5 separate regions of the Homo sapiens genome follow, and all the other regions are linked to region 3. Evidence: fine-mapped expression QTL. A gene starts in region 3. Each other region holds a variant in brackets. All regions are shown on one strand. Distances are from middle to middle. Region 1 overlaps PLEKHG3 (pleckstrin homology and RhoGEF domain containing G3). Region 2 has its middle 20 kb from the start of PLEKHG3. Region 3 holds the start of PLEKHG3 (pleckstrin homology and RhoGEF domain containing G3). Region 4 has its middle 51 kb from the start of PLEKHG3. Region 5 overlaps PLEKHG3 (pleckstrin homology and RhoGEF domain containing G3).

What was found. PIP is the estimated chance that this variant, and not a neighbour inherited with it, causes the effect.
Region 1: its variant is fine-mapped to the expression of PLEKHG3 in prefrontal cortex (BrainSeq, PIP 0.95).
Region 2: its variant is fine-mapped to the expression of PLEKHG3 in esophagus mucosa (GTEx, PIP 0.95).
Region 4: its variant is fine-mapped to the expression of PLEKHG3 in lung (TOPMed, PIP 0.99).
Region 5: its variant is fine-mapped to the expression of PLEKHG3 in whole blood (TOPMed, PIP above 0.99).

What each region holds. Positions count from the first base shown.
Region 1 is chr14:64,742,442-64,747,542 of GRCh38, reverse strand. It overlaps PLEKHG3 (pleckstrin homology and RhoGEF domain containing G3), which reads right to left. Exons shown (of 17, transcript NM_001308147.2): 16 at 5,088-5,101; 17 at 1-4,561. The coding sequence ends at 3,840. It overlaps SPTB (spectrin beta, erythrocytic), which reads left to right. Exons shown (of 36, transcript NM_001355436.2): 36 at 1-1,260. Among named protein-coding and RNA genes, the nearest start is that of PLEKHG3, 41 kb to the right of the region's middle. The variant G/A (reference allele first, on the strand shown) is at 2,454.
Region 2 is chr14:64,681,688-64,686,788 of GRCh38, reverse strand. No RefSeq gene overlaps it. Among named protein-coding and RNA genes, the nearest start is that of PLEKHG3, 20 kb to the left of the region's middle. The variant T/C (reference allele first, on the strand shown) is at 2,762.
Region 3 is chr14:64,702,103-64,707,203 of GRCh38, reverse strand. It overlaps PLEKHG3 (pleckstrin homology and RhoGEF domain containing G3), which reads right to left and starts at 2,780. Exons shown (of 17, transcript NM_001308147.2): 1 at 2,500-2,780. RefSeq lists an enhancer at 4,000-4,501.
Region 4 is chr14:64,650,521-64,655,621 of GRCh38, reverse strand. No RefSeq gene overlaps it. Among named protein-coding and RNA genes, the nearest start is that of PLEKHG3, 51 kb to the left of the region's middle. The variant T/C (reference allele first, on the strand shown) is at 2,501.
Region 5 is chr14:64,730,562-64,735,662 of GRCh38, reverse strand. It overlaps PLEKHG3 (pleckstrin homology and RhoGEF domain containing G3), which reads right to left. Exons shown (of 17, transcript NM_001308147.2): 5 at 4,975-5,021; 6 at 4,714-4,864; 7 at 4,494-4,625; 8 at 4,120-4,302; 9 at 3,857-3,949; 10 at 3,482-3,568; 11 at 3,203-3,236; 12 at 2,762-2,860. Among named protein-coding and RNA genes, the nearest start is that of PLEKHG3, 29 kb to the right of the region's middle. The variant C/T (reference allele first, on the strand shown) is at 2,693.

The DNA of each region.
Region 1 (5,101 bases), 40 kb before region 3:
AGGAGCCACAGGAAGGAAGACGTCATCCGATGGAGCCTGACATCCCCAGGTTCCCGCCCTGGTGAGCAAGGTCTTCATTTGGCTTTGGTACATATGACCCTATACAGGGAACCTAGTGTGTATCACTCACCAGCCTCTTTCTGTATCTGGGGAAACCAAGGCAGTGAGGTGACTGCACTCACCTAGCAATAAAGTAGGCCTTTGGTGCACTTGCAGGCATGTCCTCCTCTGGGGCAGAGAGCAGGTTCCTTGCTGAAGGGCAGATGGTGGCAAACATCTCCCTCAACTGTTTCCCTGGGCCAGTCTTTAGGGAGCCTAGGGACAAGGGCCCACCCTCCCCCTTCCACGTGTGCCAAATCAGCACCTGAAGTGAGGCATTTCCAGCAAGCAACTCCACAGACCCGAGAAAGGAAGGGCTCTAGTGGAAGAGCTAGCATCTCACCACCCCAGGTCCCCTGGCCTGGTCCAGGGCAGCCAGCTGCATGTGACCATTCTGTTGCCAGCTCCCCACACATCCCTCCTGTCACCCAGGCTCCAAGACATTCGACCAACTAGACTGAAAATGCAGGCATCCAGCTTTGGGAGACCCTGTGTGTGCCACACCAGGGCTAAGCTCTCCCAGTGCCCTAGCAAGGTCTTTTTTTTTTTTTCTCTCCTTATTCTACTCTACAGTCTTTTGACAGTATTCCCAAACGAGGTTGACACAGCTCCAGTCCACACCAGCATACCAGGCTTCCTTCCCAGGGCAGTTTAGAGGAAGCTCCTTCTGGGCAAGGTCAGGCGGTCCTCCTTCCCTCTCTCCTTCCCCTTTGTCCCAGCCTCAACTGACTCTGGCTGTGGGAGGTGTGGAGGGTCCTTAGGCTTCCCTCCCCAACCTGGCCTCCACCAACACCCCTAACAGGAGGCCCGTGGAAGGCTCAGCCTCTCCTCCGCATCCCTCCTCCTTCCTGCCTATCGGAGGGAGCCAGGGTCCCCTAGGCTGACCCTGAATCCTCTTCCTCCCTTCATGGGAGGGGGGCAGGAATCCAGAGGAGGATGAAGCCAGCGGGACCACATGGCTTGGTGGCTTGGACAAACAAGCTCAGGGAGGAAATGAGGAGGCGGCGGCTGCAGAGGAATGCAACCCTGTTGGGCACAGACCATGCAATCTGGGGCTGGCCCTGGGGCCAGCTGGGTCCTGTCCTCCACCTGCTCAACCGTGCTTCCACCAACCAGAGGAAACCCATTTACTAGTTTTTCTAATAAATCAATAATGCTCCATGTTTCTCTCAGTTTCTTATTTAACTAGCCTCCTCTCCCTTTGAACTGAGCCTAAGAGGGCTGGCACCATGGAGACAGAGGGACAGCCAGATTCTCTAGCTTGTCCCTGGGAGCCTTATGGGACGACTGCAAGCACCCGGTTCCTGGGCTTCATCACAAACTCCAAGAAAAGCTTGCTCATTCATGCATTTGATCAACTTGAAGGCCTACTGTAGGGCAAAATCATTTCCAAGCAGTGATCAGTCCAGGCCCCTCCCCACAGAGCTCAGGACAGATCTCAGCACTCACTGGACCGCAGAATCATCAGAATCTCTAAGCCTGGGATTCACCTCCAGAGGGCAGTTTCTGTTGGTCTAGGGAGATGGAATGTAAGCACTGCGTTTCCAGAAGGCTCCCCAGATAATTCCAATGGGCAGCCAGTGAGAACCACCGACCTGGTGCAAGGTTCCCAGGCATACCTAGATGGCCGTGTAAGGACTGCCTGGGGAAGGGGTTAACTACAACTTCCTGGGCCCCACCCTCTGAAGAGCCCCAGTCGGGTTCTTCAAGGGAAGATCAGAGGCTAGTGACAACCTCTCTTGAGCAGAAGCAGCGCAGGGCAGAGATAGCCCCTGGTCTGGCAGCTGCCCTGAATCTTCTGTGGTCATTCCACAGTCACTGGCTCCTGCCAGGCCAGTCTCAAGATATGATGCTGAGTAACCACAAGGGCACTGGACAGTGTGAGGGTCAGGGAGGCGGAGGTTGCAGTGAGCCAAGATTGCACCACTGCGCTCCAGCCTGGGCGACAGAGCAAGACTCCGTTTCAAGTGGGGGATAAAAAAGAATCTGGGTCCCTCTGATCTTCCCTTGACCTTGTTAGACTTAGCAGACCCATCTTCAGGTTGGGTCAGAAGGCCCACAGGGCCCTGACCCAGCAGCCCTGCTGAACACTTGTCAGGCAGCTCTACCACCCAGGCCCTGAAGCCTCTACCTCCCAGGCCCCAGCTAGAAAAAAAATTAAGCAAAATGAGTCTGGACCTCTGTGGAGAAAGGGCAGAAAACCCAACTGAAATAGGGAGGCATTCCTAACTCTTCTGAATCAAAGATACTTCTGAGAATGTGATAAAAAGGGAGGAATCATCCCAGAAAAATGCACTTGTACTCCTCATCCAATGTTGCAGACACCTTTAGGACATTTCTAGTCTCCGAGTTTA[G/A]AATCCTTACCTTCAGCCGCATGCAGTGGCTCACCCCTGTAATCCCAGCACTTTGGGAGGCCGAGGTGGGTGGATCACCTGAGGTCAGAAGTTCGAGACCAGCCTGGTCAACACGGCGAAACCCCGTCTCTACTAAAAATACAAAAAATTAGCTGGGTGTGGTGGCTCATGCCTGTAGTCCCAGCGACCTGGGAGGCTGAGACAACGAGAATTGCTTGAACCTGGGAGGCGGAGGTTGCAGTAAGCCAAGATCACGCCATTGCACTCCAGCCTGGGTGACAGAATAAGACTCTGTCTCAAAAAAAAAAAAAAAAAAAATCCTTGTCTTCTAGGATGTTTCCTGGGGACCGGAGAGAAACGCAAAAGGCACCAGATACTGGGAGCATCTGCTTATGAGAAAAACAGTCTATCCACCTCACCACCTCCCTTTTTCTTGGTCCAACTCTGGCCCTTGGGGAAAAGAGCAAAAGGCTGGCATGCGGGACCCCCTACCCTAGACAGGACAGCAGGCTGCTGCTAGACAGAGAAGCCCATGGGAGTCTAGGCAGCAGAAAGAAAAAGCCCGCCCTCACATCCTCCTGCCCCACCTCCCCCACCAGTACCCGGGTGCCTTATGTTTCATAAGCCCAAGTGACAATTGAGTGTGGAAGGAACAACCTCCATGTCTCCATCTCCCTAAGACATCCCTGGCCCATGAATAACCTTCCCTACCCCAGCCAAGCCTAGGAAGGAGTTCACACATAGTGGGTTGGTCAGCAGTGGTTATTGCACCATTGGCAAATAATGAAATGTGTGTACATCAGCGACAACCACAGGGTCAGCACAACAACCCTCAAAAGTACCTGAACTGAATCCACTTCATTCTTGACAGGAGGGGAATAAACAGGGGCCACACACTCACGCACACGCACATCATACCACAGAATGGAAAGCAATAAATTATTGGCTTCATTCCTGCCTGGACCCTAAGAAAAGGCACCGTTACAGAACAAAGCCTCTCCAGGCCACTGCCTGAGTCTCCTGGGGATGGGCTCCTCCATCTGGCTGTGGCCATGGCCAGCCAACGCTGGAGGCCTGAGCAGAGCTTCCTCTCTCTGGGAAGAAGTGAGCTTAAATATTTGGCTTCTTACCAGAGAACAACTATTTACAAGGGAAGCAGCCACACCGGCCTCACAGGTGAGTGGGAAATTGTCTCGAGCCCCAGTGGATGGCACAGGCAGGAGACCCCTGCACACGGGAGCATCCTTCCTGAAGGGCGGAGGGGATGGACTTTCCGCCCACCTGAGGGCCCTGGGCAGGGGCTCCATGAGCCCAGGCTTGAGGGGAAGGATGCCCAGGTTCTTCCCCAACCTCCAACATGACTCCTCCCTCCCCCAGGAGTCAGCATCAACCGACAGAGTTCAAGGCCTGGAACTTCTCTCTAAGGTTTCTCACTCTGCCCTGCTGGCTCGGGTCTGCCGGGTCCCTGGAACCCTCTTCCTTCGGCTGGCACTCTGCAGACTGCTGGAAGTCCTGAACCTGCCCCAGCAGGGCCACCGGTGAGCTTGGTCCCTGGCCACTGCTCTCCTCCAGCCCTGCAGTGGGGCTGGGAAGGGGTCCCTTCTCCATGACAATCACCCGCCGGTTGTCCTCCAGGGTGAGGTCTGCAGTGACATACAGGGTCTCGCCTCCATCCGGCTTGCTCTGGGGCAGAGGCCCAGGGGATTGGGCAGCCTCTCCGCCTCCCCGGCCCCTCTTGGTGCTCAGGCTGCGGCAGCGGCCCACCCTGCCCGACAGAGGTGGCTCTACCATGTTCTCCGGCACCGAGTGGCTCCTGTTGACGGGTGGGCCGCGGGGCCGGCCGCCCCCTGCTCGGCGTGCCTCATCGCGGGAGGCATACTTGGAGCAGAGCTCACGGACGTCGGGCCAGCTGAAGGTCTCTGTGGGGCTGAGGGGGCTCCGGGCGGAGGGCCGGCCCCCAGGCGAGGTGGTCCTCTGGCTGACAGCAGACGGGTTGAAGAAGAAACGCTGTGGTGACATCTCCCCAGCCGAGGAGGGCTTGGGAGGGCTGTGCTCCTGGGCCATCAGCTGCTCATAGTCAAATAGAGACAGCACCGGCTTCCTCTTACCTATGAGGAGAGAGCAAGCTGCCTGAAGCATGGGGCGGGAGGGCAGAGCTGCAAGGGGGTGCTCTGAGCAGGCCCCAACTCACTTTCCAGGCAAGGCTGGTTGTTGGGGTTTTGGGTGTGATGGGAGAAATCTCACTTACCATCCACAGCCTCTTTCATGAAGGGCCATAGGAAGAATGAAGAAAAGGCAGTGGAAAGGGGTCAGGAGTCAAAGGCAGAGGGGGAGAGCTTCTGCTCCCATCCTGCTAAAGGAGGGGCCTGGGGCCATGCTTCCTCCAGAAGCCTCTGCTGGATGGGAAGGGCCAGAGCAGAGGGCATCAAAAGGGCTTAACCAAGAGAGCAAGCTTGGCCTCAGAGCACTGGACTGGCTGCCAGGGCTCACCCTGTGCCCTTAGTGCCCAGGGTCCAGCTTCTCCCTTTGGTAGAGCCTCCTTAGAGGTCACTTTCCCCGAGGAGCCAAGTGGCTCCTTATTGACTCTTCAGTCCCTAGACTTGGGGAAGGGCCCACTTGCCGCTTCTGTCATACCTTTGCCACCTAAT
Region 2 (5,101 bases), 20 kb after region 3:
GTGCTGGGATTACAGGCATGAGCCACTGCACCCGGCCATATTTTTAAATGTAAATAAAATTGAATTTTGTAATAAATAATAACAAATGCCTCATTTATGCCAGTCGATATCTTTCAACTCTCTTTTTCAGTTTAGCAACTCTGTGAAATGGGTATGGGAAAATAAATTATCCTCATGTTCCAACTAAGAAAGCAGACTTAGAGAAATAACGTAAGTACCTAAGTGCATGTGTGCACATGTGCGAGAATGCAGGCCTGTGTGAGTGTGTGTGAGCATGTGACTGTGTGTGACTGTGTAACACACGTGTGTGTGAATATGCACGTGTAAGACTATACAGCATGTGTGTGAATGTGTGACTATGTAAAGCACACATGTGAGTGTGTCAACACCGTGTATGACTGTGTAAAGTGTGTGTGCGTGTGTATGAGCATGCATGTGTGGTTGTGTAAGGCACATGTGTATGAATGCGTGTGAACATGTATGTGTGAGACCATGTGAAATAAAGCATGTGTGGATGTGCACCTGAGGCCTGGGAGGCCTGGCCTGGAAGAAACCAATTGCAGAGGTGGAGGAGCCCCTGAGGAGACAAAAAGCCGTGGGAGCAGGAGCAGGGGGAGGAGAGGAGGCAGGGGCAGGCCTGGAGTGCAGCTGGGCCTGGAGCTTGGAGAGAAGGCCCAAGGTGCTGGTCGCTTGAGGAGCACCACCATGCCTGGGTCTGAAGTCCTCAGGGCAAGTACCCACCAGGCCCAGAGCTCGGGTACAGCATTGCTACCCCTGGAGGAGGCCTTTCCTGGACCCACCCACAGCAGACAGTAGGGGCTGGTCCGGTGAGCCCCAGCAGGAACAGTCATTAACCATGTAAGCTGATTCGGTGCAGCTGGAGGTGGAGATGGAAGTGTCTGCGTCTCACTGGCAAGCTGTTTCCCTCTGCGCTGCATGCTCCACAAGTAGTAACTCCTACACAAACGCTAGAGCTGCAGAGACACAGCCCCCAGCCTCTCCCACCTCAGAGAGTGGGGAGGGCCCAGGCCTAGGGAAGGGATGGTGGAGTGGGCAGGCATAGAGGGAAGGTATGGGGATTGGAGGGGACGTGGAGAATATTTTGAGTGGGTTTGTTGTGGTCTGGTGCAAACTGCTGTGCTGGGAAGGCGAGTGTCTATACTGCTGGCAGTTTCCTCTTCATCCTGCTGGAGCACCTGGCACCCTCCATGCCTCATGTTGGCCAGATGTTCCACTGTCTCCATGGAATGCAGATGTTAATGTGGCAGTTCAGCATCTATCCTGAGCATTGATGTTCTTGCCAGGCTACTGAACCTCTGTGTGTGAGTGCATGTGAGTGTGTGTGTGTGTGTGTATACTGTGTGAACAAGTGCAAGGAGTCCTGGAAAGGGGCTTATCTTGCCCTTGGAGCTGAGGGTAGCATCACTTCTTTTTTTTTTTTTTTTTCCCTCTGAGACAGAGTCTTGCTCTGTTGCCCAGGCTGGAGCACAGTGGCTTGATCTCAGCTCACTGCAACCTCCACCTCTCGGGTTCAAGCAATTCTCCTGCCTCCGCCTCCTGAGTAGCTGGGATTAGAGGCACATGCCACCACGCCCAGCTAATTTTTTATATTTTTAGTGGAGATGGGGTTTCACCATGTTGGCTAGGCTGGTCTTAAACTCCCGACCTTGTGATCTGCCTTCCTCAGCCTCCCAAAGTGCTGGGATTACAAGCATGAGCCACAGCACCCGGCCGCACCACTTCCTTTTAATGCTCCTAAGAAAGCCCAAGCCACAAAGGTACAAAGCAGGGAAGGGCCCTGTTGTGGGTTGAATTGTATCCCCCCAAAAGATACTGAAGTCCTAACTCCCAGTACCTGTGAGTGTGACTTTATTTGAAAATAGGGACTTTGCTGATGATCAAGTTAAAATGGGGTTGTTAGGGTGGGCCCTGATCCAGTACGATTGATGTCCTAATTTTAGGGGGAAATTTAGACTTCGAGACACACACATAGGGAGGACACCTTATGAAGATAAGGGCAGATATGGGGTGATGCATCTGCAAGCCACGGAGCAGCAAAGATGGCCAGCAAGCGCCCAAAGCTGGGTCAGAGCATGTATGTGTGGTTGTGTAAGCACATGTGTACAACTGTGTGTAAACATGTATGTGTGTGGCTATGTGAAATAAAACATGTGAATGTGTACCCGCAGCCTGGGTCAGATTCTCCTTCACAGCCCTCAGAAGGAACTAACCCTGCCAACACCTTGATCTCAGACTTCAAGCCTCCCATACTATGGGACAGTAAATGTTCTAAGCCACCCAATGTTGGTGGCTTGTTAGAACGTCCCTGAGAAAGTAACACAGGCACGATAGCACACCGGTCAGGAGCATGGAACTGAGTCTGAATCCAGCTCCACCACCCAGCGTCACCGCCCTGGGCAAGTCACTCAAGTGCTAGGAGCCTCTGTTTCTTAAAGTGGGACTGGGAAGAGCATCGCCTTCCCAGGCCTGTTGTGAGGATTCCATGGGTTTGGCCCACTGCCAGCCACATGCTAAGGGCTTAGTAAACTGTGGCTGTTATTGTTATTAAGAACACAGCTGTTTTCAGGGTCTCTGTCAAAATTCCTGATGACAAAATTATCTCCAACCTGCACAAAGTCCAAACATGAGAAACTGGAAGAGGAAAACAGAAGAGAAAGCCATGTTGTGGAGGGCATACTGTGCCAGGCACGGTGCTGTGTGCTTTCCCAGAGGAATTTAAATTCTAGGCCGGGCGCAGTGG[T/C]TCACACCTGTAATCCCAGCACTTTGGGAGGCCAAAGCAGGCGGATCACTTGAGGTCAGGACTTTGAGACCAGCGTGGCCAACATGGTGAAACCCTGTCTCTACTAAAAATACAAAAATTAGCTGAGCGTGGTGGCACATGCCTGTAGTCCCAGCTACTGGGGAGGCTGAGCACGAGAATCGCTTGAACCCAGGAGACAGAGGTTGCAGTGAGCTGAGATCATGCCACTGCCCTCCAGCCTGGGCGATAGAGTGAGACCTTGTCACAAGTAAATAAATAAATTCTAGCACTCAAAAGGCTTAGGAGAGGGAGACCTGGGACCCAGGGGAAGGACCTACAGGTGGGGATGGAGGGTGAGGGACAGGTCTGATAGGGGAAGTGAGGCAGGGACCTCCAGGGGAAGGGACACCCAGGCCCTGAGTGCCCCTGTGCCCCCTCCCTGCCCAGCCCCTGGCCATGCTTGCCATCGTGGGGAGGTGCCTCGTGGGAGATGTGGAGCACAAACATCACGGCCAGTGGAGCCAGAGTCACCTGACCCGCAATAATGCGCCTTTCTGCCCCAGCGGAGACAGAGGGCATTGTGTGTGCGGCTGCGGCCTGAGACTCGCAGCACAGCCTGCCTCTCAGAAAAGCATGATTGTCTTGGGCAACCTCTGCGGCCTGGGGCTGCCGACCAGTACGTCATAACAAACCCAGAGCGGGCGAAGGGACAACCACCCTCTAGGGACAGAGCCGCTTTGAGACTCCAGTCTTAGAGGCCCCAAGGAGCCAGGGCAGAAACGGGAAGCAGGCCGAGGTGGGGGCTTTGGGACAAAATGGGTAATTCGGAGCGGTAGGAACTTTTTCAAAGACCCTGGCATAGGGCGTCACAGAATCTACAGCCAGGATTTGTCAGGAAAATCAGTGGTTATGAGGAGATGGTGTGTAGTTCAAATCCCCACTGGGGCATTCGCTGGCTGGGTGATTTATAGCAAAATTGCAGATAAGGCATAGTTTCCCTCAACCCATAGATAGGGAGGTTTGGGAGGATTAAAGGAATTGATGTCAGATCCCTGGTAGACACTCAAGAAATATTAGCTGTCATAATGATTATTAATCTATATTGTTCCAAATAAATTAGAAAAGCAAAATGTTTAGCACAGAGCCTGGTACCTAGTAGCTGCCTAATAAATACTAGCCTGTGCTCTGCATCCCTGACTTCTGTCCAGGAAGCCGCAGTTTTGGAGAGGCTAACAGAGTGGCCTCTTTTCTTTAGAGGCATCCTTTCTCCAGCAGAGAAAGGTGTCTGGTGAACCCGCTGACAATCACTCTAGGCGAATGATCCTGTTCAGTTTCCTCCTCAGGGCTGGGCCCCGGCCAGCCTGGCAGTAGCTTCTGTTTTGCAGGTAGGAGGCAGTAGCCAGGTGCAGACAAGGAGGCCTTCCTTCGCCTGCCTTTGCTGTGCCTCCCAGTGAATTCACATCCTGTGTTCTGCCTGAGCCTCAGCCTGGCCCAGTTCTTGGGAGATTACCTTTCCTTTGTCTCATGTCCTGGCATCTGGAAGAGCTAACACCCTCACCCCAGTCAGCAACCAAATGAGCTTCCAGAGCTCCGGCCAGCCCTGCCCTGCCCACGGCTCGGGACCTTGCAGGAATTGGGAGGGAATGTGCCTCCTGGGCCCATGCCCAGCTCTGACTGAGGCTGGGCCGAGGGCCTCTCCTTGTCCCTCCCCCACAGACACACAGGGCTTTATAGTCAGATTATGCCATGGAAACTATGCACACGGCCTGCCCCGTTCACATGGCCTCAGAAGAAAAAATAACAGTGCCTCCTCTCTCTGCCAAGACCCACAGTCCTTGCAGGCCTGAACTACCAAAGCAGACCTCTTATGTGAAACGGGTCCCTGTAAAAATCTCAGGAGGTCGTGCCATTGCACTCCAGCCTGGGCAACAGAGTGAGACGCCGTCTCAAAAGAAATCTCAGGAGGACTTCTTTGGGGGTGCCCTTAAATCATTCCCCCTCCCCCTGCCCCCGGCCCTCAGCTTCCCTCTCCTCAGACATCTGGAGGGCTCCTCCCACCAGGAACAAAGCCTTATATGGCAGTGTCCTTCTGAGACAGGCTCATTTCCCTCTCTAGTATCTTCCTTAGGCCCTGGGAGCCCCACTCTGGTCCTCCCCCAGCCTCCCTCTTCCTCTTGGGATGAAGTCAGCAGAGCCAACAGGGCGTGTCCATTTGAGCCTCCCCCGCCTTCCAGACCTGTGCTGTCTAATACGGCAGCCACTAGCCACATTTGGTAATTTATTCTTTATTTTTATTTATTTATTTATTTTGAGAGTCTTACTCTGTTGTCCAGGCTGGAG
Region 3 (5,101 bases):
GTTGTGATTTCCAGCTGCCAGGGCCCCCGCTGGAGGGCTTCTGCTGAGGAGGGAGGATGGAGTAGGGCGGGTTTGCAGCCACGGAACAAAGGCCTGTGGACTTGCAGCTGGCCAGAGAGGCGGGACAGAGCAGTGGCCTGGGCCAGAGGGGCGGCCTGAGATGGGGGAGGGGGCACAGATGAGGAGCTGAAGACAGCCCTCAGTGCAGCTGCAAAAGCAACACCCTCCCAGAGTCCCTGCAACCCCCAACACAACAGAGAATAGCCAGAGGGCTTCACTTTTAACCCTCCAAGGCCAGGGCGGCCTGGGCTTGTGGCAGCACCCCTGGCTTACAGCTGGAGCCTTCACAAGGTTCTGGGAGCTGGGAGAAGAGAACGGGCAAGGCATACCTCTGCAACAGAGGAGCCTTCCCCCTCCAGCCCTGGTCATCCCGCAGGCCGTGGCCTTTGGCCTCTTCCAGCGTAAACAGTGACCGTGGGATAGCTGCGGATTTGGTAAGGCAAATGTTTACTCTGGGGCTGAGATATTAAGACCAGGGTGTTTTAAACATCCAACAATGGCTCCTGGTATCTAACGTCTCCTTGTGGCACACACGTGGGACATAGCCAGCAAATTGTAAAACCCTTGGGAGACTCCCTCCCGAGCCACTGTGAGCCCTTTAGTTTTAACAGGAGTTTATGGAGCACTTTCCACAAATGAGGCTTCCTTTGATCCTCACCACAGCTCCTATGAGGAAGAGCAGGCAAGTAATCCCACTTTATTTATGTGGAAACTGAGTCAGAAAAGATAAGTGAATTGGCCAGATCATGTTGGAGAAAACACAGATCAGACAATGAGGACATCTGACCTCTGGTTTCTACTTGGCCAATAGGGTCTAAGGCTGAAATCACCTCACCCCTCTGGGCTCTGCTGCCTTCACGAGTAAATGAAGTAGGCTAATCCAAGGGGCCCCCCAGCCCAAGTGACTCGCACTCTTCAACTCTACCAATCTTCCATGCTATGCAGAAGAGCCAGGTCTAAAACTCAGGCATAAACCCGTGCTGGACTATCAGGCCAGTGCTCTTTCCACTTCCCCTGCCATGCCACTTCTAATAAAAGGCAGTAGAAAAGCCCCCAAAGCAGCTCTTCAACAAATCACTCCCTCAGCAGCTAGGACTTGGCCTCTGGGTACCTCTTCCCCCAACTTCCTGCCCCATCCCCAGGGCAAGTTACCCAGGGAGCTAATGGGTTGTCCTATCTTCCAGGAAGGGAGTGGAGGACAGCAGGTGTCGAAAGGAGAAGTGAGGCCATTGCATCCAGGGGGCCAGCCCGGAACCACAGGGGAGAGATGTATAACAGAGAGATAAATGTACACTTTTGGTTCTCACTCCCTAGTTTCCTCCTGGGGAACAGCTGGGGTTTAATCACTCAGGATCCCATCCTTGTCCAACAAAGGATGGCCCGGAAAACCACACTGCTGAAGGCGAGGTGGCCGATGTGCTCAACGGGGAGGCCCTCCCCCGCTCCGGACTGTCATTGCCCTCCCTGCTTATTATTTCTTGAGCAAGGGCCATGTGACTGGGCTGCGTGCAGAGGCACGGCTGGGGAGACTCTGGGAACCCCCACTCCAGGGTTCCCCGTAAGGTGAACGCAGTGTGGGTCTCCTGCTGGGGCCCCCAGAGCAGGGGACAGGCACCTACATATGCCAACAGATTAGCGAGTGACCTCGAGGATCAAACTCTTTCGCGGCCTCTAACAACACCCTCCCCAAAAGCCACACCTCTCCAGCCTCCAACCATTCCATTCTCCCCTCCGTTCTTCCTTTTGTGTTCCAAAGGCGCCCCGAAGAGTCAAAGTAGCTATTTAACGCCTTAAAAATTTAAGCTTGCACGCCTTATACTGGCTTTCCAAACCAAAGGGCTGGGTGTAGGGGTGCGAAGAACCAAACCGACTTCAGGAGTGGACGAGGTCGAGGCAGCTGGTGGCCGGGCTTTCCGCTCCCCGCTTCTGGCCCCCACTCTCCTCCCTGCCGGACAGGTAGCCGAGATTCCCAACAGCGAGCACCGTGCGGCGCCAACCCGGAACAGGCTGCAGGCGCCTCCGGGGCTGGCAGGAGCCGAGGCTCGGGTCCTCGCGCAGAAGGGTCCACCCGCCAGGCCCACAGCTCCAGCCAAACACCAGCCCTCGGGCGCGCGCGGCCTCGCGGGCTTCCTGGATTTCAAACTGAGCCTCTCTGGAGCCGCCCGGCGCATTTGCCCCTTTTGTTTCCGGAGTGGAGGGAAAAAAAGACAGAAAAAGTCTCCCCATACGACCCTCCTGCGCTCGCGCACTCTGCGGCAGGGTGGCCCGGGAAGCAGCCAACACAGTTCCAGGCCCTCCTCGGTCGCCCCGGTCCTCACCCCGCAGGGGGCTGGCACGGGGGCCGCGAAGGGACTGGGGCCCCAGCGTGACTGCCGGCACCGCCGCTCAGCCTAATGCAGGGAGATAAGAGGGGAGAGAGGAGAATCAGGGGACACTCACCGAGCGGTAGCTGCCCCGCGGGCTCGGGACGCGCACGGCGTGCGGGGCTGCCCAGGTGCTGCCGCGACGCGGGCGCGAGTTTGAAAGTCGCTCTCTGAAGGGGCTGAGGCCGCCGACCGCTCCCGCCCACCGCCAGCCCCTCAGCTGGCCCGGACTCGGCCAGCTGCAAGCGCGGCCCCCGGAGACCCCAGGCAGCGCGCGGCTTGCCAGCGCCCGGCAGGAAGTCGAGCGGAGCCGGAGCTGCAGCGGGAGGGCAGGAGGGAGCGAGGGAGCGAGGGAGCGAGGGAGCGAGGGAGCGAGGGAGCGAGGGAGCGAGGGAGGGGCGGGCCAGGAATTTTTCCTGTGGGTGGAGACTCCAGCTCGCGGCTGCAGTCCAGCAATTGGCGGCTCTGCGGGGGCCGGGGCAACCTTCGCGGCGCGGCGAGCCAGAGCCGGGGTAAGGCTGCGGCGGCGGCGAGGCCTGGGCGCGGTTAACGATTAACGCCCGCAGGGTGATGAGCGCGCACCCCCGGGCAGCCTAGATGCTCTAGGATACCAAGACGCACGTGGTGGGGTCACCCTGGTGTCACAGACCTGCTATCACCGCCTCCCGAGACAGCATGGACTGCCAGAACGTACCCCTTGTATGGACAGGGAACACCGGGCCCTGCGAAGGGGGCTGAGGGCTTTCCCAAGTGAGTGACCAGCCGGGATCGATCTGGGGATCCTAATCCTACCAGAGCCGGCCGTGTCCGCTTTTCCAAGTCAGAAAGGCATGTCTTGAATTCCTCACCATAACTCGGTCCCTGTGACGCTTTACAGTGGTAAATGCAGACCTCTGAGAAGCTGACGGGAAAGAGATAAAGGAGACAACGTGAAGGCAACTCCACAAGGAACTGTTAAATAGGAAAAATAAAACACAGAAACCTGGATGATAGAGGACCCGTTTTTATAAAACAAAGAGAACCGTTTGTCTTTATGTCTCTGTATATGACCGTGTATGCATGGAAAGGTACACACCTGGAAACTGGGGGGCAAGGGGTGAGGATGGGGGACAGAGACATTCAATACATTTTGAGCAAGAGCATAAATCCAAAAACCCATAATAATTCATCAGTAAAGATCCTGAAGAACAACAAGCCCGGAGGAGGGAAGCCCAGAGTGGGGCTCCGGAAGAGGAACAACGCCCACTGGTTAGGCGCTATCACTAGTTCCTTGGGAGGAGGAATAGGACGCTGATATTAGAACCACGGGGTATATTTGTTATCCAGGTGTACAGCAAACGATTTCTAGAGGTATCATTTAAAACAAAACAAGCGCCCGCCCCAAAATGCTGCTCTGGGCAAATGCAAGCTCCAGGTGATCTACTGGGAGGGGAGAGGCGGGGCAGGCGCGGAAGGAAATGGCTTTCAGGTGACTTTGAAACTGGATCCTGGCGGAGGGTGGGGTGAAGGCAGCGTCCCGGCTCCTGCCTGCGGAGGAAGCGGTAGGCGCTCGGTCTGGCAGGCCCAGAAAGCGGGGCCCACATTCCTTAGGGAGGGAGGGTGTGTTGGAGGCTTGCAGAGCCCCAGACTCGCGGACCGTGAAGGTGAGAGCAGAGATTGCAGAAGAGGGGCTCGGAAATAGATCAACTTAGTTGGGGCTCCGCTAGACCCCGCCGGCCAGGGGAGAAGTGACAAGTCCCCCTTCTGGCCTTCCAGGACTTGTGGTCACCCCTTCCAACCTCAGGCTTTCACCTTTTTTTGTTTATGCTTTCTTATCTGATCACCTGAATCTTACGAATGCCTTCCGGTCCGCTTCAAATTCCAGCTTCCAAAGAAGCCCCCTGACTTAGCCACTTGTGAGCGACCCTTCACTCCTTAGCCAGGACACGTTACAGTGTTAGTGGCAGTCATAACTGTCCTTTAGTGAATGCTTACCATGCAGAGGGCCTGTGCTACACTCTTAACAAACTGTGTCCCTGGATCCTCACAGCCACCTTGCGAGGTAGGAGATATCCTAATCCCCATCTTGCAGACAGAACACTGAGGCTTAGGGGCAAGGAGCAACTTGGCAAAGATTACACAACCAGCAAAAGCAGTGTCGGGCAAGTGCCTAGATGGGTGTGTGCTTACTATGAGTGTGCTTACTATGTATTAGCCATTCTTCTAAGTACTTTACAAAAACAATTGCAGTAACAGAAAAGGAAACTGAGGCAAAGTCACACAGCTAGTGGGTGGTAGACCTGGAAGTCATAACAGGGAATTCTGCCCTTCACCATCACTGCTTCCAGTTTCTTTCTGACACTTGTTATGCCCAATTCACTTGATTATAATATATTGTTTCTATTAATAATTGTTTTAATTTATATCACCTACTTCCTAAAAAGATTGTAATCTCCCTGTGGTAGAAGTCATATAGGAAGCACTCAGTAAAACAATGCTGAATTCAACTGAAACAATCTAAAGAGTTTGTGAGAAATCGCACAGTCTCTCCTCCGATAATAAAACCCTGTGTCAAGGGCCAGGGGCTCCAGGCTGCAGCCCCTCCACAGCTCGGAGCCTCTTCCTACCAGTTCTTGTTGCAATGGCCTCACCCTGCTATTAAATCATTTATTATTATTATAATACCTTGTGTCTCAGCA
Region 4 (5,101 bases), 52 kb after region 3:
GAGAATGGTGTGAACCTGGGAGGCGGAGCTTGCAGTGAGCCGAGATCATGCCACTGCACTCCAGCCTGGGCAACAGAGCAAGACTCTATCTCAAAAAAAAGAAAAAAAAAAAGTTAAAGGAATTGGGGCAAAGGGAAAATAAGGGTAAGAGCTTCCCAGTTAGTGCTTGGGCAGGGCAGATCAGCTCCATCAGAAAACAAGCGCTTGGGGCACACTGCTAGCACTTTCAAAAGGCAGCTTCCAATGCAGATGATTCCAATTCTACACCTTGGCCAAGCTGCCTCTCCAAATGGAGCAGGGCACGTGGGCTTCACTGTATACGCAGACCACGTGGAAGCTGACACCATAACCTTACCCACCGCAGGCTTCTCATGCACTCACAAACCTTCAGCTGGGCCGGTCCTTAGAATTATCTAGGGCAACCCTCTTGATTTCCAGATGACGAAAGTAAGGCTCAAAGAGGTTAAGTGTCCTGCGGAGACACACAGAGCATGTAAGTAGCAGAGCTGATTCACACCCATGTGTCCCACCGACAGCCTAGTTTCTCCGGGTTACCACACCGCCTCTCATTGCCGTAAGTCAGCTTCCCTTTACTTATTTGGGAAACGTATGGGCTGTATGAAATCATTATGTTCTCATTCTTTTTAAACTGTTCCAGTAGTTATGCAGTTTCAAGGTTCTGAAGGCTAAAAGTACTATTATGTGGTATTAAACAAGGTAGACATTAACTGTGACACGGGAGGGATGTCACAAATCCCATTGCTGAAGCTGAAGCTGTGTTACTTATTTTAGAAAACTTTCCATTAGTTGACTTCCCAAATAGAAGTGTTGCTTCCTGGTTTCCCTTGGTGATTTTTTAAATTGTGCTTAAACATGAGTGTCCAGTTGAGACTACATGCAATTCCAGCATAACCAGGCTTGGTAATGACCAGAGCTATTAACCTGTGATGGACCTTGTATCAGCCAAATATTTACCTAGCTCATGCTCACAACAGGTTGGTGGGACAGATCCAACGGCTCCTACTTCAGCTGGGTTTCCGTTTGGATCTTAATGTGAACACAGCTGCTTGGTTTTATTTATGTACATAGATTTTTCTGACATATTTCATCCTTTCCTAAACCAACTACCCTCGGAGACATTGCAACTTGCTCTCTTGCCTCCATGAGTCACCTAAAAACACACTGGTGGTTTCCAGGACTTCCTCAATGTCTTTCTAGCTGTGTCTGGTGTAAGCTTATGGGCTTTCCCTGGCACAAGTTTGACAGATCTACTCACTCATCTTTAATTCAGTTCTACAAACACTGCAGATGTGGTAGAGGATGGTCGTGGGCTCTAGAACAAAACAGCCCTGGTCTAAATCTCAGCTCTTACTTCATAACCTCCAGCAAGTTACTCAACCTCTTCATGCCCCATTTTGTAATCTAAAAAATGGAAATGATAATATAACCAACCGCATTAGGTGATTATGAGAATTAAGAGTTACTATGCGTATCAGCCCTGGAAGAGTGTCTGACACATGTTGTGAATGCTCAGTACATTACTGACAAAATTCCTGCCTACTCCAAGTCAGGCATTGCCAGGCTTTGGGGATATAAGGGTGAATAAAACACAGATCCTGCTTTCAAGAAGCTTGTTCAGAGAACACACACACACACAAAATATACAGTCCAGGCACGGTGACTTACGCCTGTAATCCCAACACTTTGAGAGGTCGAGGTGGAAGGATTGGTTGAACCCAGGTGTTTGAGACCAGCCTGGGCAACAAGCAAGACCCTGTCCCTACAAAAAATTTACAAATTAGCCAAGCATGGTGGCACACGCCTGTAGTCCTGGCTTCTCAGGGGGCTGAGGTGGGAGGATCACTTGAGCCTGGGAGGCCAAGGCTTCAATAAGCCATGATTGCACCACTGCACTCCAGCCTGGGCAACAGAGTAAGACCCTCTCTCTCTCTCTCTCTCTTTCTCTCTCTCTATACACACACACACACACACACACGCACACACACACGTGTATGTGCGTGTGTGTGTGCATGCACGTGTGTATGGCAACATTACATATTCTTATCATGGACTTTTATTTCTTGATTTTTTTGGAGGTGGGAGTCTTGCTGTGTCACCCAGGCTAGAGCGCAGTGGTGCAATCTCAGCTCACTGCAACCTCTGCCTCCCGGGTTCAAGCGATTCTCCTGCCTCAGCCTCCCAAGTAACTAGGACTACAGGCATGTGCCACCATACCTGGCTAATTTTTTTTTAATTTTATTTTTAGTAAAGACAGGGTTTCACCATGTTGGCCAGGCTAGTCTCGAACTCCTGACCTCAAATGATCCACCTGCCTCGGCCTCCCAAAGTCCTAGGATTACAGGCGTGAGCCACCATGCCCAGCCTATCATGGACATTTTAAAAGAAGATAGTAGCATAGCATTTTTGTGTTTCATATGGAAACTTGTTGCTATATTATTACCACTGAATACCAGCATTTTCATCTAGAATTTGTTAAATG[T/C]CTCTATCCATTAATTCACCAACATGTATTGAGCACCTGCTGTATTCTAGGCACCATACTAGGCACTTAGGATATACATGTGATACTGACACAAAATGTTAGTATATCATTCTTCACTGCCTTCCCTCTTCCTACACTTCCTAGGCCTCACTCAGGAGTGCCTGTGATTGCCTACCTGGTTCTTGGGGCTTCAGGGTAAGTGGGAGGGTGGAGAGTCAGGAGAGGTTGATTCGATCTATATAACGGAGGTGGCGAGGGGGTAACAGGAGAGATGTGAAAATTTCAGTTAGTTTGAAAGAAGAGATTTGGGGAAGCAATTGCTGTGATGAGAAAACTGGGAAAATTGAAGAGTGAAGAGGAACTTTTGAACTTCTACTGGGCATTCTGCAATGTCTTTCCTTCTTCCCATACTTCTTCGGTAGAGACTTCAATGGCTTTTCAGTGCTTTTGGATGTCAAACTGGTGCTGCTTTTGAATATGATGCCATGCTGTAGCAGCCGGCTTCTGAGAAAGCCCTCAGTGAGCCTTGCCTCCTGATGTTCATGCTCTTGTGTCTTCCCCTCCCACACTGAGTTGGGATGAATTATGTAATAATAGGATATTGCAGAAAAGAAAGAGTTGAACTTCCAATGCTATAACCCTCACTGTGGCTTCCATCTTGCTCAGTTGGATCACTTGCTCTCTGGTAAGTCAGCTGCCATGTTGTGAGGATACTCAAGCCTTCCCATGGAGAAGTCCACTTGGGGAAGAACTGAGCTCCCACCCCCACTCCCTGAGCAAGCATAATTTGCCAGCGATGTGAGTGAGGCTACTTAGAAGTGGATCCTACAGCCCTGACCAACATTGTGCTATGGCTTCATGAGACCCCTGAGTCAGAACCACTCAGCTAAGTCATTTCCAAATCCCCAACCTGTGAGAGATAAAAAATATTCACTGTTACTTAAATCTCCATGTTTTGGAGTAATTTGTTACACAGCAGTAGATAAGCAAAACACTGGCCATTAGTTGGCCAACTTTACTGAGGTTACCCAAATATAACCTGAGTTTCCCAGGCCACCTCAGCCTATGGGAACAATAGGGGACACAGCAAGAATAACACTCAGATTCCATGGCTGGGCACGATGTCTCATGCCCTTAATCTCAGCACTTTGGGAGGCTGAGGCAGGAAGATTGCTTGAACACAGGAGTTCAAGATCAGCCTGGGCAACAGAGCAAAACCCCAGATCTACAAAAAAAATTAAAAATTAACTGGGTGTGGTGGCACACACTTGTAATCCCAGCTACTCAGGAGGCTGAGGCAGGAGGATGACTGACTTGAGCCCAAGAGGTCAAGACTGCAGTGAGCAGTGAGTGTACCACTGCACTCCAGCCTGGGTGACAGAGTGAGACCCTGTCTCATACAAAACCCCAAAACTCAGATTTCACTGGCTCTTGCCTTATCTGCTGAAGCCAGACCTATACCTGCAATCTTCTGTTAATCAACCATCCCACACATCCCACCCCCATAGAAAAATAAGAAGTATGTTTGTGAATCATGAGAAGAGGGACCAGTCTCACGTGTATGTGTGTGTGTGTGTGTGTGTGTACAAGACTGTTCTCCCTGAGTGCTGTTTTGCTCTCTCACCCAGTACTTCCTATGGTTTTCAAGATACCACCATCTCCTGCCAGGAGATGGTGTTGCCACTGGAACTCGTGCCCCTGCCAAGCACCAAAGTCTCCCATGGGCCATGGCCCACTTTCCAGCTATTCACCCTGCAGAACTCACTGGACCAAAGCTGGAGCTGCTCTATGTTGAAGTGGTAGCAAGATGCTTCTCTCCTCTCCAATGCACTGCCCTTGCCCTGGAGGTCTGTAGAGATTTTACTGAGATCTCACTTTTTACTCACAGCCATCTCTCTCCTTAGGTCTCAGACATGTGTCCACAGGTTGGGCAGGGACAGAATAAAAATATTTATATGTTGTCATCAGGATTCTCACTAACCTTTAGTGACCCAGAATTTGTGACTGGGCTAGGCTCAACATGGCTACAGGCAGCTCTAGGCTCATATCATGTCAGTTTGGCCATCCTAAGGAGGGAGAGGACTTCTTGCTTTAGAAGACGTAACTCCCAATAAAGAGCTCTGATTGGCTAGGCTTGGGTCTCATGCCTGCCTCTTGGGCTGAAGTGAGGGGGAAGAAAGGGAACTGTGATTGGCAGCCTCATCAGGATCACCTTCCCCAAGGGAAGGAGGCCTGCACTAACCCTCAAATGTGGGTAGGTAGCAAGGGAGGGGGAGAAGCTGGTGGATAAAAACAACAGCTTTCAGGCTAGGAGCAGTGGCTCATGCCTGTAATTCCAACACTTCGGAGGCCAAGGTGGGAGGATTGCTTGAGGCCAGGAGTTGGAGACCAGAGGCCAGGAGTTGGAGACCAGACTGGGCAACATAATGAGACCCCTATCTCTACAAAAATAAAAATAAAAATAAAAAAATTAGCTGGGTGTGGTGGTGCAACTGTAGTCCCAGCTACTTGGGAGGCTGAGGCAGGAGGATCACCTGAGCCCAGGAGTTCAAGGCTGCAGTGAGCTATGATCATGGCACTGCACTCCAGCCTGGGCAACAG
Region 5 (5,101 bases), 28 kb before region 3:
CAAGTTCAACAGATTGATTTCTTTTTTTGTTTTGTTTTGTTTTGTTTTTTTGCAACAAGGTCTCATCTGTCAGCCAGGCTGGGTGGGTGCAGGGGCACGATATCCATTCACTGCAACCTCTGCCTTCCAGGCTCAAGTGATCCTCCCACCTCAGCCTCCAGAGTAGCTAGGACTATAGGTGCACACCACCATGCCTAGCTAACTTTTTAATTTTGTAGAGATGAGGCCTCACTGTGTTGTCCAGGCTGGTCTTGAACTCCTGGACTCAAGTGATCCTCCCACCTCAGCCTCCCAAGGTGCTAGGATTACAGGAGTGAGCCACCACACCTGGCCTGAACGATCGCTTTCTAACAGACAGGAGGGGAAGAAGGGCTACTACAGACAAGCATACTTAGACCAATGAAAACAAATACTTCAGTGTTACAGAAGAACCGTGAAGAGGGGCACGACACACCAAACACAGGCTGTCTCTATGGCAACCCACAGCCTCTGGGGCCCCTCAAGCATCTGGCAGTTCACACACCCTAAGTGATGCTGTAGCATTAACTCCAGAAAAGGAAAGGTTCAACGGTGGCCAGCACCTTCTGTTTTAAAAGGCTCAAGAGTACAAAACATGCTTTAGAAAGATGTCTATTTCAGCTAGGCGGGATGGCTCATGCCTGTAATCCCAGCACTCTGTGAGGCCGAGGCGGGTGGATCACCTGAGGTCAGGAGTTCGAGACCAGCCTGACCAACATGGTGAAACCCTGTTTCTACTAAAAATACAAAAAAAAAACTAGCTGGGCGTGGTGACGCGTGCCTGTAATCCCAGCTACTCGGGCGGCTGAGGCAGGAGAATCACTTGAACCCGGGAGGCAGAGGTTGCAGTGAGTAGAGATGGTGCCACTGCACTCCAGCCTGGGTGACAGACAAGGAAGGAAGGAAGGAAGGAAAGAAGGAAGGAAGGAAGGGAGGGAGGGAGGGAGGGAATTTCATAACTGTTAAAACATTTTTTAAATATTTTTTGAAAAAATCCAACTCTTAGTATTTACAGGCTAAAAATCTCAGCCATGTGGAAACTTCAGCTCTTTAAAATGGCTCATTTCCTGAGTGCCTTGGACACCTAAAGTTTGGGGGCTTTTTGTAACAGCTTTATTGAAATATAATTCAAATACAATTCACCTATTTAGAGTGTACAATTCAACGGCTTTAAGTATATTCAAAGAGTTGTACATCCATAGCTAAAGTTTCGATGCTAACACTAGGATAGAGCTACTATCACTACCACCAACGTTATCACTTGCTGAACACATCAGTGTGCTAGAAGCTTCAAATTTTAAGGTATGGCAAGTTGAGGAGGACAAGAAGAGAATTACAGGAGAAGAAAAGAAAAGAGAAGAGAAGAGAAAAGAAAGAGGGCTAGAGAGAAGAAAGCAACACCCCTATTTGGAGCTTTTAACTATAAAAACCATAAAACTTTTGCAACCATAGCAAGGTGGCCTAGGGCTCAAGATCCACCCAGAGCAATACCAACAACATAAAACCACAAAAGCCTTCTATAAGCCACTGCTCCACCTTCTCGAAGGCTAACACCCACATGTCAATCCACACACACATTCAGGGGACCCACAGGTCATCACCAATCAAAACCCAACACATCTGTGGGACCCAAGCCAGGACACCACTCTCAGTCACTTTAGAATCCTTCTCTCCCAGGGTCTTAAAGACAATTCTCACCCCAACTCCCACCTTGGGTATATGTTTGGCAGACACCTGGCTTAAGCCAGACCTGTCCTTGGGCCTTGCACTAAATAGCAACGAAAAAACCAATTTTGAAAACACACACACCCATCACCACGGAGTTTAGAATAAAAGCAAGGTTTTCTCTTTTCAAATAGACGATTCATTCCAATAATCCAAGAACACCCTAGCAAGTCCAGGAATGGAAGAAAACTCAAGGGAGGAAAATGGAACCTTTTCCTGAGACCCAAAATAAATATTTCCTGTCTGGGTTTGGTGCCACTGAACTCGTTTTCCCCGGGTCCTGCTTCTGCTCGGTTGTTCCAGGACTGGGCTGGGCCCATCCGCCATGTCCAAGTGTCACTCCTGAATGACTTGGTGTTGGTATTCCAGAGAGGCAAAGGAGGGAGGGGGCTAAGAAGGGGTGCCAAGGCCGGAGCGAGCAAGTATTCCTAGGGCCTTGAAAAAGGTGGGCTGGACGGGTACAGTGGCTCACACCTATAATCCCAGTACTTTGGGAGTCCGAGACGGGCGGATCACCTGAGGCCAGGAGTTCGAAACTAGCCTGGCCAACATATAGTGAAATCCCATCTCTACTAAAAAATACAAAAATTAGTTGGGTGTGGTGGTGCACGCTTGTAGTCCCAGCTACTTGGCAAGCTGAGGCAGGAGAATCGCTTGAACCCAGGAGGCAGAGGTTGCAGTGAGCCGAGATCGAGCCACTGCACTCCAGCCTGGGCAACAGAGCAAGACTCCATCTCTCAAAAAAAAAAAAAAAAGAAAAAGAAAAGAAAAGAAAAGAAAAAAGTAAGAAAAAGGTGGGCTCCAGACCTGGTAGGCAACGAGGGCCCAGGGGTACCTGGTGTGGGGAGCACCAGCACAGGGAGAGGATGAGCCCCAGGTGTGTGTCCAGCCCCGCTCTAGCCTTTCCCAGGGTTTCCGCAGAGGTGAGAGCCACAGCCCTGGACACTGC[C/T]GCAGACGGTCCCCAGTCTGGGCAAGGGTGTGAGGGAGAGGCCTCCTGCCTCCACAGCCCTTCTCTTACCAGATTGCCGGCGCCCCTGGCGCACATTGGTGGACACCTCATCCTGGGAGGACCAAGCCTTCTTCAGCCGCTCTGGGCTGCAGCGGTACCGATTGGGATCTGCACCCAGGAGAGAGACGATCAAGCTTTTGATTCCCAATTGGCCTTGGCCTACCCTAGACCCTGTCCATAACCAGCCAGACCTCTATACCCACCCAGCTCCAGGGCCAGGAGCCTCCAGAGCTCCCTCCATCTTCCAGCTGGGAGCTTCAGGCACTGAGAGTCCCACCGCTCAGCAGGAGAGCATCCTTAATCATGTAGTTCACCCCCCAGCCCTTAACAGGAGACCCCCGCCCTCCCTGCTCCTGGAATAAAATTATCAGGTAAAGCTTCCCCAGGATGCAGCCTGACCTAGCAATGTGCACGATTAGGGACAAAACAGGCAGAAAAGGGTACACTTACAATAGGAATCCATTTCCAAGATGGCTTCCTTGGCCTGAAGGGGAAGGAAACACACCTGGTTATTACCTTACCATGTGCCGGCCTTCCCTGCCCATAGGACCCACTGTTGCTGTACGAGGACACCCCACAGTGCTGCACCAAGGCCCGGGGCATCTGCTGTACTGACACTCACTGTCCACTGGAGCCCAAATCCAGAAGGTGAGCCCCCAATGGACCTTGCAGAGCTGGCTCAGAGGAGCACATTCTCCTTGCACACAGTCAGGAGCTGGGGGAACTCACCTTCTGGGGAATGGTGGCATGGTGGTTCTCTAGGATGAGCCTCTTGATGTGGTGAGTCCAGTTCCGTTTCTCCTCCACTGTCTTGGCCTGGGAGGACCCAAGGGAAAGGGACCCAGTGGTTATCATTACAGGCCTGAAGCTGTCTAGCATGGACAGTGCTTCCACCCAGGGAGAAAAAGTGGGGCCATGCTGGGGCCTCTGTGAGGTTAACCTGACTCCTCACTTTGACCCTGAGAGGTGCCTGCAATGATCCTTGCCTCACAGATGGAGACACTGGGGCTTGGGGCAGCTAGGTGAGCAGAGGAGCCAGGAGTCCCACGCAGGTGTCCCCTGGGCATCTTGTTCCCTAGCCCCTGAGCCCCACCTTCCCCTCACCTGGATGCTGTACTGCTGCTTGCTGTGCTTGTAGTGGGTGACAGTGAAGCACAGGGAGTCTCTGGTGCTTTCGATCAGCATCAGGGAGGAGCACTAGGGGCAGAGGGAAAGGACAGTCAAGCACAAGGTTGACAGCCTGGGGAAGCAGGGAGGGTGATCTCAGAAGGGTGGTGCTGGAGCCCCAAGAAGCAGACAAGAAGGGGAGCCCAGATCCTTTGGGAAGGAGAGAAGATGGCAGAGGAGATGGGGCAGGGCCTGGTTACCGGGATGTTGCCCTTGTAGACAAAGTGATCGCCCCGCTTCTTGGTGATAAGCAGTGTTTTGTCAAAGAGGAAAAAGGTCCTTTCATTGCGCACGCGATGCACGCGGAATGTGCCCTCCAGGACAAGCTCCCCGTAGGTGGTCAGGTCGGGCCCCTTCCAGTTGATGAGGAGTGACTGAATCTCCTGCAGCAGAGGGGCCCCAATCCCTAGAGTCAGGCCACTGGGGCCTTAGGAGGCTCTGCAAACCCTGCCACAAAGGCTCCCCCAATGCCACTGCCCAGCTCATCCCAGCAGGGTGGCCACAGTCCCTCTTCCCAGCGGAAGCCTGGCCCACCCAGCCCTGCCCCTCCCCCAGCGTCCCAGCCCCAGAGCACCTGGAGCCGGACCGCGTGCTCATGCCTCCTCTTCATGTCGTTGATGTACCAGGCCACACAGGTCATGGTGTCAATGGCATCCTCCACCACCTCAAAGCCATCCTCTTCTTCATCAAAATGCTTGGCAATTTCCTGCGCAGAAGATAGACGCTTAGGTGCCCCTGACCCGAAGGCCCTGCCCTCCCCAGGCCCTAGGTGCTTGGGAGGACCGAGGGGCTACCTGGAGCAGCAGGTGGTACTTGAGGATGCGCTGGACTGGCTTCAGCAGGTAGGAGCCCAAGGGCAGCGAGTGCTGTAGCAGCTCCTGCCGGTCCCGAAAGAACTTGGCCTGCTGCTTGTCCCGCATGCATTCCGTCAGGGCGGCCACGGAGCTGGGAGTGGGAGAAGGGCCAGTCACCACCTGGGGAAGGCCTGGATGAGGAAGTGGGGGGCTCTGGACTCACCAAATGGCTCTGCCTTCCCTCTCACCCCAATTACTCACTTGGGGTAATTGTTGCAATACTGAGTGTAGATATCAAACTCTTGGCTCTAAGAAGAGATCAAAAATAGTGATTTCAGGGAGATTCTCATTTGACAGTAAAGATGGTGGTAGCAGATAGGCCCCTGGC